2 separate regions of the Homo sapiens genome follow, and region 2 is linked to region 1. The links come from fine-mapping of genetic effects on gene expression. A gene starts in region 1. The other region holds a variant in brackets. All regions are shown on one strand. Distances are between the middles of the regions. Region 1 holds the start of TMEM170B (transmembrane protein 170B). Region 2 overlaps LOC105374928 (a long non-coding RNA gene).

The links. PIP is the estimated chance that this variant, and not a neighbour inherited with it, causes the effect.
Region 2: its variant is fine-mapped to the expression of TMEM170B in whole blood (TOPMed, PIP above 0.99).

Annotation. Positions count from the first base shown.
Region 1 is chr6:11,535,798-11,540,963 of GRCh38, reverse strand. TMEM170B (transmembrane protein 170B) reads right to left here and starts at 3,215. Exons shown (of 3, transcript NM_001100829.3): 1 at 2,590-3,215. The coding sequence starts at 2,686. RefSeq lists silencers at 2,262-2,541, 2,552-2,631, 2,732-2,891, 2,922-3,751 and an enhancer at 2,421-2,922.
Region 2 is chr6:11,487,587-11,492,752 of GRCh38, reverse strand. It overlaps LOC105374928 (a long non-coding RNA gene), which reads right to left. Exons shown (of 5, transcript NR_187824.1): 2 at 5,042-5,166; 3 at 2,289-2,440. Among named protein-coding and RNA genes, the nearest start is that of TMEM170B, 48 kb to the left of the region's middle. RefSeq lists an enhancer at 629-748. The variant C/G (reference allele first, on the strand shown) is at 3,160.

The sequences.
Region 1 (5,166 bases):
TTTAATGAGTATTTTCTTCAATGACAATGTACCTGGTCAACCAAGAGCTGTGATGGAGATGTCCAAGTAGATCAATGTTGTTTTCATGACTGCTAACACAACATCCATTCTGCAGACCATGGATCAAAGAGTAATTTTGACTTTCTAGTCTTATTATTTAAGAAATACACTGTGTAAGAAGGCTAAAACTGCCAGAGATAGTGATTCCTCTGATGGACCTGGGCAAAGGAAATTGAAAACCTTCTGGAAAGGAGTCACCATTCCAGATGCCCTTAAGAACAATCGTGACTCATGAGAAGAGGTCCAAATATCAACTTTCATAGGAGTTGGAAAGCAATTGACTCCATTCCTCATGGATGACTTTGAGGGGATCAACACTTTAGTGGAGGAAGTAACCATAGGTGTGGTCGAAATAGCAAGAGAACTAGAATTAGAAGTGGAGCCTGAAGATGTGACTGAATTGTTGCAATCTCATGATAAAGTTTGAATGGATGAGGAGTTGCTTCTTATGGATGAGCAAAGAAAGTGGTTTCTTGAGATGCAATCTACTCCTGGTGAAGATCATGTGAACACCGTGGAAATGACAACAAAGGATTTAGACTATTAGATAAACTCGGTTGATAAAGCCGCAGCAGGGTTTGAAAGGACTGACTCCAATTTTGAAAGTTCTACTGTGGATAAAATGCTACCCAACAGCATCCCATGCTACAGAGAAATCTTTCATGAAAGGAAGAGTCTATTGCTCTTCCTTAGTGGCAAACTTCATTGCTGTTTTAAGAAAACTGCCATCATCCCAATCTCCAGCAATCATCACCTTGATCAGTCAGCAGTCATCAACACAAAGACAAGACCCTCTACCAGAAAAAAGATAACGTCCTTGCTGAAGGCTCAGATGATCGTTAGCAATTTTTCAGCAATAAAGTATTTTTAAATTAACGTCTGTACTTTTTTTTCAGACATAATGCTATTTCACATTTAAAGACTACAGGTAAAATGTAACTTTTACATGCACTAGGAAAACAAAAAATTCATTTGGCTCACTTTATTGCAATATTTGCTTTATTGTGGTGTTCTGGAACCAAACCTGCAATCTTTCCAAGGTATGCCTGCACAAATATATGTTAAGTCCCTACTTTTCATTTCACTTAAACAAAAACTGGTACAGTTCAAATACCAAACAGTGGATAAATGCAAGCAAAATCATAAGTAAGATAAAGCAGTCTACCTCTAAATTCAACTGAATCATGAGATGGTCTTTATGTCCATTTAGTTTTCCAGAATTATAACAATATATTCCTTACCGGCAATCATCATGTAAAGTCAGTCTGTTTCAAGTTAAATAACCACAGCTTAAAAGTGAGGATAGCATGAAGCAATCCAGAATCTACTTTAACTGTATAGTTTCCATTCGAAGAAACCAGTGTCCTTAAAGTTGTCTTTTGTGGTATATAATTCCATAAAATTTTCTTCTATGAATGTTTGTATTCTATACCATGCCAGACTTTATATATATGTTATATATATGAACCCAGGTTATATTTGTAAAATACTCACAACACTTTAACCAGTTTGACAAAATGCATTTTGAAATACTAATGTTCTACTGAAATTAACTGCCTTACACATTTTCAAGAATTAAATTCTGAGTATTTTTTTAAGATTTTTTTCCTCTGAAAAGCAGGCACTGAGGAGTCACCAAATCGCAACTGAATCTCTTTCTCGTAAATTCTACTTCAGAGAATAATTTTTAAATTCGGAACTCAAAGTATAATGTAAGCATTTCCACATAACAAAACCAGAAGTTTCTTCACAAAGCAAATCTACAGACTGAATAAAAATATTGTGTGTTTTATCACTCACTTTTACAAATAGAAATTGATGTTATAAGGCCAATTACTGACAGCCTTAATAAATGAAGGGAAATACACAAAATTATCAAATGTCTCAGAAGCAGCAGCTGGAGGCCTGAGGGAAAGAGACAGACAGACAAAAGGAAATGGGAGGGGAAGGAGATATATGAAGCTAACACGCTTAGACCGCACTAGACCTTAGCTCAGCCCCTGACCCACTATAATTTACTCAGTTATCTACATCGCCCAAAAAATTAGCGGTTGAAAAAGTAAATCGACCATTGTGGGCAATGATTTTAGGTTCTACATTTGGCTTGAGATTTGCCAGAAAGAAAAAGAACTAAATCAGAAAAAGATGTAAATAGCAAGAAGCGATGTGTGTAGAAGGGGGAGGGGAGGAGGGTAATGGAATAAAAGCGAAATGCGCTCAAGTCTCAGCACTAAAGCTACTCCGCGCGTACTACAGAGGCCGGGCCGCCACCGGGAGCTCTCCCCGTGCGGGGCAGGAGCGGGGGTCGCTGATGCTCCCCTGGCGACTCAGGGAAGGGGGTGGCGGGAGCCGGCGCCCCCGGGACACGCGCAGAGTGGCTCCGATTAACACCTTCCTCGCCGGGACCTGGAGCTCCGAGCGGGGCGCGCACGGGGGTGGGGCGGCGAGGAGCGTGTCCCCTCCCGAGGAAGGAGAAGACAGGAGAGGGGCGGACCGCATCCCCGTCCCCAGCCCAGGCGCGTCAATTACCCGTGAGGTTCCTCAGCACCGTCCCGTGGGCCCAGAGGCTCAGGACCTGCTGCACCGACAGGTTGATCATGGAGTGGTCGCCCCCCTCCGCCTTCATCTTCCCCGAGGGGCGCCCGCCGCCCTCTCCTCGGGTGCCGGGCGGCGGCGGCGGCTGCGAGGCTCGGGGGGCGGCGGCGGGTGCGCGGCTCCTCCAGGCCGCCGCCGCTGGTGGAGGCTGCGGGACGCCGGGCCGGGCGCTGCTGCTGCTGCAGCCGGAGGGCCTCCGTGGGGGGGCCGCTCAGCGTGTCTCCCAGGCAGCCCCCTCCCCGCCGGGGAGACATTGAGGACGGCGGACGGAGGAAGGAGGGGAGGGGGCCGGGCGCCGTCCTCGCGCGGCCCCCGAGCGAGGACTCGGGGCGGAGGAGGCCGCCGCCGCTCCCTCTCAGGGGCAGCGCCGCGCCGCGGGGACTGGACACGCGAGGAGGCCGAGGTCACGCCAGGAGGCCGGTGCTGATGGGCAGCCGGCAGGTGCAGCCCCCGACAGGGCCCAGCTCATCGCCGCCGGAGGACGGAGACGCGGGACCAGCCAGAGGCTGCGGCGGCACCTGCCGCCCGCCTGCCCGCCCTCGGGTCGCCGACACTCGAGGAACCGCCCCCTCCACCCGCAGCCGCCGGCGGGCCACTCGTGCACGCGCACGCGCGCGCCTCTCAGCGCCGGCCCCTCCTCCCCTGCGCTCCCCGGAGCCGCTGCGCATGCTCACTCCCCCGCTCCCCGCGACCCGCCGCCCTCCAACAGCCGGTCGGCCCCAAAGCCCTCCTTCTCGCTCTCCCCTCGCGCTGCAGCGCGCGTGGCTGACGGCGCCGAGCGACGGCCCGCAGTGGGGCGGAGGGAAGCGCGGTCTACGTCACTGGCGCCACCGCCGGGCCTTACTGCTGATTGGGCGCTCCAAGGGAACCGCCTCCACGCCCCCCACCCCCGGACCCCGGGCGCGCGCCCTGAGAGACCGGGAGACCTGGATCCCTCGCCCTGGCCCGGCTGGGTGCGCGCGGTGCGGGCGGCGTGGGCGGTGCGGGCATTTCGGGGGCCCGCGCTGCAGGGGCAGCCCTGACCCAAGGTGGGGCTGCTGAACTCGGTGAGGTGGATACTGTGACAGTTCAGATTTTTGCCTTAAAATGTAATGCTTTTTGATAAAGATGCTTATGTATAACTTTTTTAAAAAGGTGTCACTATCTCAGCATTTAGATATATTAATTTGCGGGGTTTTTTTTCTGAGCCTGAATCGAATGACCTGGATAGGTCACTTACTTGCAGAATGCATGTTAAAACCCCTAAAACACAAACAGACCTGCGTTATCATTCTGCTAATCCCTCTTCCCGCAGCAAGAACTTGGGCCTCCCGGGGTTCCAGGACCTGCCTGACATTACCTGTTTACTCCAGGCTCGGCAGGTGTCCTAATCCTCAAGGCCATCGCCGGCTCTAGCCCCCCTTTTTTTGATGGTAGTATTCTTTTATCTAAGTTGCGTCTGTTATTTTTTTCCCTCGAACTTAAACTAGATCTCTCTCCCCACGCTTTGCTGTCTGTCTTCATGTCCAGCGTTAGCCAGAGGAGCATCTAAAATCCAACTACAAGTTAAACTCCTCGAAATTGGAAACCTTCTAACTTTAAAAAATAAAAATTTAAGTTTTAGCAGTAACATAAATATGCAGTAGCCAGCCCCTCCCCCCACCTTTTTTCAACCCCTCTGCCATCTGGATAAAGAAAAATTTACAAAGAGAAGTGAAGAAATACCTGCTGTAGCTAAATCATGAAGTATATTTGACAAAGCACTGAAGGGTCAAATTACCTGTCAAATGGTGCTCTTGGTGACCACTTTAAAATAATATTTACATACACATTTATTTCTTTGTTTATTTGTATTTTCTTTTTGATGTCACAACATAAGAGAAATTTTTGCACCATTAATAGGAATTGAGCCAAAACTCTTAATGTAGAGTTTATCTTCCTCCTAGAATTTAGACTTAATTAGATCTATTAACAAGATTACAGAATATCAAACCTAAAAGAGCGCTTTAACATTTTTCTAATTTTATTTTACAGATAGGGAAACAGATTCTGTGAATTAAGTGACTTGACAGAGATGACAGCACTTCACAGCTCAGTTTCTGAATTCCTGGTCTATTATTCTTTCTAGCAACCACATTATCTTTCTTAACCCACTGTTAACTCCCTCACTTTAAGATTCTTGATGGGGAAGTGCAGGTTACCTAATGATATTCTTAAGGGACTTGGCATTACATAATTAGTGATGTTAGGGAATGTGACCACATTCAGTGAAGGGTTCACAGCAAACTCCCTGAGCAGGGGCTCATTAAACTCTCATATCAGAAACCTTTAGTTAGTTTACGTTCTTAGGATTGCACACTATTATTTAAAACACAGTAGCACGCAGTGAAAATATTCAGAACCTGGGACAGTGCCTGGCACCTGCACCACAAATATTTGTTGAATGAATCACTGAATGATCTTCATAGAAAAGTCAGCATTGTTCTTGTTCTGAATAAATATTTTTTACAGAATCCAAGTGTTCATGTCAGG
Region 2 (5,166 bases), 48 kb after region 1:
CAATCCTACACCCACGTAATCTCTCTCTACACTGCCTTTCTCTCCCTAACCCTGCGGCTACAGCTCCCCACACCAGTAGGCTCAGCCCACACTAGTTCCCAAACCAACCTGGGATTGCGTAAGCAACTTTAAACCTAAACCTACAAATCTACTGTGAAACTCAGAGTTTGATGACCGTGCAATGACCCCAGTTCCTGGCTGCCATGTTACATCCTGAACCCTTACTACAGATTTAACTGGGATGGGATATCCCCGAGGTATCCATCAGGATCCAGCATCCATAATAATAGTTGCTCTCCATGGGGAATTTCTGCTAAAAGCAATCCTCTAATCCTGACAACAGAGACTTTCACCATCTTTGTCTTAAAAGATGAGGATGCAGGGGCCTGAAAGAGGCTATGTAACTTCCCCAAGTCAGTGTCAAGCTGGGACTGGAAGATGAGTATTCTAAAAATTATACACTGTGAGCTGTGATTCAGCCTCGAGGGACTCTACTTGCAACCACTGTCTGGTCTTCCAGTTTGAAACTTGTTCTGAGCTTCCTCTTCTACCTGAGTCTCCAACCAGGTTCCTCCTTGAAAACTGAGTTAGCTAGGTGACCAGGACCCTGTACCCCAGGTTCATCTCACCTGGCTTTCTATCGTTCACCAGAATTTCTTACTGCAATGTTCCCCTTCTCTTGGGACACATGACTGCTTAACATAGGCTTTTAATGTGTGGCTCCTTGTCTGTGAGAGTTGGGAGCAAAGTAGGCCACGGGCATGAGGAAGGCGATATTGTAGCAGCCTTGCTATCAGGGTCAACATGGTGCAGGCAGGCATTCGGTCCTCTGCAGCCCTGTAGGGCTGCAATGCGTACCCTCAATGACTCTCAGCACACACGTGTGCACACACCACACACACAACCCGATACACACATGCACACACTCCACACACACACACACACTCAAACATACCACACACACCACACACACAACCCGATACACACATGCACACACTCCACACACACACACTCAAACATACCACACACACAACCCGATACATATCACATACACACACTCCACACACACACACCACACACACAACCCAATACACATCACATGCACACACTCCACACACACTCACACAAACATACCACACACACCACACAACCCAATATACACACACATATACACACCACATATACACCACACAACCACATACACACCACACACATCATACACACACCACCCTAACACACCATACACACACAACCCTAATGCAGCAGCAAGTTGGAGGACAGAAAGACACATACATATACACACCACACACATATACACACCACACACACAAAACCCTACACACATCACACAAATATACATATACACATCACACACACACCATATACATACACAACCCTACACACATCACAAACCTATGCATACATACACATACCATATATACCCACACACACAACCACATACACAGCACACACACAACACATCATACACACACAACACATACACACGACCCTACATACATCACACACACATGCACATATCACATATGCACCGCACACACCATACACATACACATCACACACACGACTCTATACACATCACACACATAAATACACATATACACACCACATACGTACCACACACAACATACACAGCACACAGCACATGCATCATACAAACACATACACACACATACCACATACATAGCATATACGCTACACACACATACACACATGCTATGCACGCACATAGACACACACACACCCTTTCTTCCTAGATTCCCAAGTCTTACACTGCACCGCCACCTCTCCTGACAGGCATAGAGGGCTGACTGTATTGAAGCCCGGCTGCAATGAAAAAACCTGGTTCCCTTGGTGGCTGTGACAACAGCATCATCAGGCATCTAACCAAGGCAAGTGCTGCAGTCGATGTTCCCGAGTATTCCTCTCTAGATATAAGCTCCTTTGCTTCTGAAGCAATCTCAAAACTCCTTTACAGTCTGGTTCAACAAATTCCCACACTTGTACAATGTTTAGTCCATAAGTACTGAACATCAAAGCCAACAGAAAACCCTAGGCGTAGGTCTGTCTATTCAGAGATTATCTCAGTTGACAGCAAGTGAATTGACCCATCCAAACCACTGGGTTCCATGACAAATTCTTCTCCAGTACCTAATATCTTCGGGATAACGCATTCATTCGCTGAACAACTCTTTGCTGATTGCCGGTGTTAGGTCACTGAGGGAGACACACATCTATGACTCATGTGACCTCAGCCCTCCAGGACCTACCTTCCAGTTTGCTGGGTGTCATAGCAGATGCAGTAGGCAGACTGCTCGGACCAGCTCCACATCCATCCTCCATTCACAAGAAAGGCTTCTTGCTGTGAGTATCTGCAATTCTCTGCTGGGGGGATTTTCTTTACTGGCCAAGTGTGCCTGCCCTGAATGCAGGACAAAATGGAAATGCTCAAGAATGATTTTCCCTGGAATCCCTCAAATAAATAATGGGCAAGGCATTGGTGAATACACATTGGAGCCTCCCTGACCTTGGCTGGGATAACTTTGTTCCACATTGCCTCCAGTGGGATTGAGGTCTAGTCCTCCATATCAGTAACTGAACTGATAATTCATCCTTAATTGATTTTCTTTGCCTCCCACTTTTACTAACCCCCTCCTCCACTGATGATTACTGGGATCACCTCTCAGCTAAACTACTCAGATTTGAATCCTTGTCTCAGAATCAGCTTTCAGAGGAACCCCGACTAATTAAAGGGCTAAAATACATGTATAGATAGTTATAATTCTAGAAGAAATGAGGTAGATGACATTAGAGTGCTTTATTTAAAATCCTGTAAGAGTTCACAGGAAGAGTAAATTACTTTGAGTTCGGAAATTAGAAAAGACTTCTTGGAGGACAGTCCTTAAATGGGGAGTAGGATTTGGGTGTTCAGTGATGGAGCAAAAGACACTCTGAGTGGGGTTGGGTAAGTGGAGGCATGACAGCAGGAATTGAGTATGGCATGTTTGAAAACAGTTCAGTCTTACAGAAGCATTTTATAAAGGAAAACAGCAGCAGAGGAGCCAGGTAAAGATAGATTTTAAATCCTAATGCCAAGGTCAGAAATGTTTATCAAGCTATCTAGCACAGCTCTATCCAATA[C/G]AAATTTCCAGAATGATGGAACTGTTCTAACAATGAGTTGTTCAAAATGGAGGCCACTAGATACAGGTGGCTATTAAGCATTTGAAATATGGCTAGTGCCACTAAGAAACTGAATTTTTAATTTAATTTAATTTAATTTAATTTTAACGAACTTAAGTAGTCAAATGGCCAAGGACTGCTATTTTGGACAGTAGATTTCCGGGCAATGCAATATGACAGGATCAGAAATATGCTTCAGGATAAGTAATCAGAGAACTGACTCTAAGATCATATGGGAGGTGATCTGAAGATAGAGACCGATGATGAGGCAGAATCAATAACTGGGTAAGTGTCGTTTCTTATTAAAGTTGAAAATGAAAATATTTTCTTCAAATAAAAAAACAAACACATAAATAAAACAGATGAAAGTGGAGCTAACCTTGCTAAAATGAGGAGAAGTCCTTGAGGAATCTCCCTGGAAATCCCAAAAGCTGCTCAGAACTCAGCTCATTAACCACTAGGCCAAGTCAAAGGTGGTGAAGAGTTCTACCAAGGTAATAAAAATGAAGAGGAGGAATAAATCTGGGAGACGTGATAGAAGTGAAGTTAATCTCTCTTAGCAACTAATTACGTATAAGAAGTAAGCCTTGAATATCTGCACATTTATTCTCTTATTCACCTAAGCCCAAACCCTGGTGTTATCCAAAATTCTTCCCCATTACTCAGTCATCACAAATATATTCTTCCCCATTACTCAATCGTCACAAATATACGAGGTGAACAAGAATAAAGCTTATTGAACAAAATTAACATACACAGTGTGACATAGATAGTATTGAGAAAAATCAGGACTCACATCCAGGTTCATTGATGAAAGGCTTTCCCTAGGGTTTCCTGCCCACCCCCAGGATAATGCAGTCATAGGAGCCAAGGTAGGGGCCTTTACAAGTAGGGTTGTCAATCAATAGTTTTAAACACAGCAGCAAGTTGGGGGAGAGAAAGACAAATGGATATTAAAGTTGGGAGTTAATTTCAGTTAGAGTTAAGGGAAAGAAGGTAGGCTCTCAGATGTCAGACTGCTAGGATTTCAGGGATATGGTAAACAAATGAAGTATAAAAAAAGTGAAGATGCAAAAGTGAAGGCAATGAATATAAACTACTCTTTAGCTCTTTGGTAAATGGAAGAAAAGGATGGAATACCCTGGGAATACTCAGCAACCTGCTTGCTGACTTGCATTTTCTTCGTCTGTGAAATCTTAAAGTATCAAGAACACCCAATGTCTTTTCTTTTTTCTTTTTTTTTGAGACAGTTTCTCTCTTGTTGCCCAGGCTGGAGTGCAGTGGTGCAATCTCGGCTCACTGCAACCTCCGCCTCCCAGGTTCAAGCAATTCTCCTGCCTCAGCCCCCTGAGTAGCTGGGATTACAGGCATGTGCCACCACATCCAGCTAATTTTGTACTTTTAGTAGAGAGAGGGTCTCTCCATGTTGGCCAGGCTGGTCTCAAACTCCCGACCTCAGGTTATCTGCCCACCTCGGCCTCCCAAAGTGCTGGGATTACAAGCAAGAGCCACCGCGCCTGGCCAACCCAATGTCTCTTCAAAGAAAGTCCTTGGTCATCTGTCACTTTACTTAGAACTAAGTGGCCTCATCATCAGATTGATAGGACCAGAGGTAAACCACTGAGGGAGCCATCTCTTTTAGGCTTACTTGTGAGAATGGAACAGCCTGGTAGAAGAGCTCTTCCCAATAGAGGCAGGGTGCACTGATGGCCAATTGCCCAGGGAACTCGCCCTCCCCGTCAAGGAGTTGGAACCCCCCAAAGACACCAGAGAGTTGCAGGTAGCAGCAGGGAAGGTAGAGGCAGAGACATAAATGGGGGATCACTTTGTCTCCTCCAGTCACCTGAAGCAGAGAACAATAAATTTATTCCCTGAAGAAACAAGATGACCAGATGCGTGGAGCTTCATGGTGTCTTGAAGGATGTTGCATTCTCCGCAAAGCTTTGCTGAAAGTGGTTGAGATCTTGT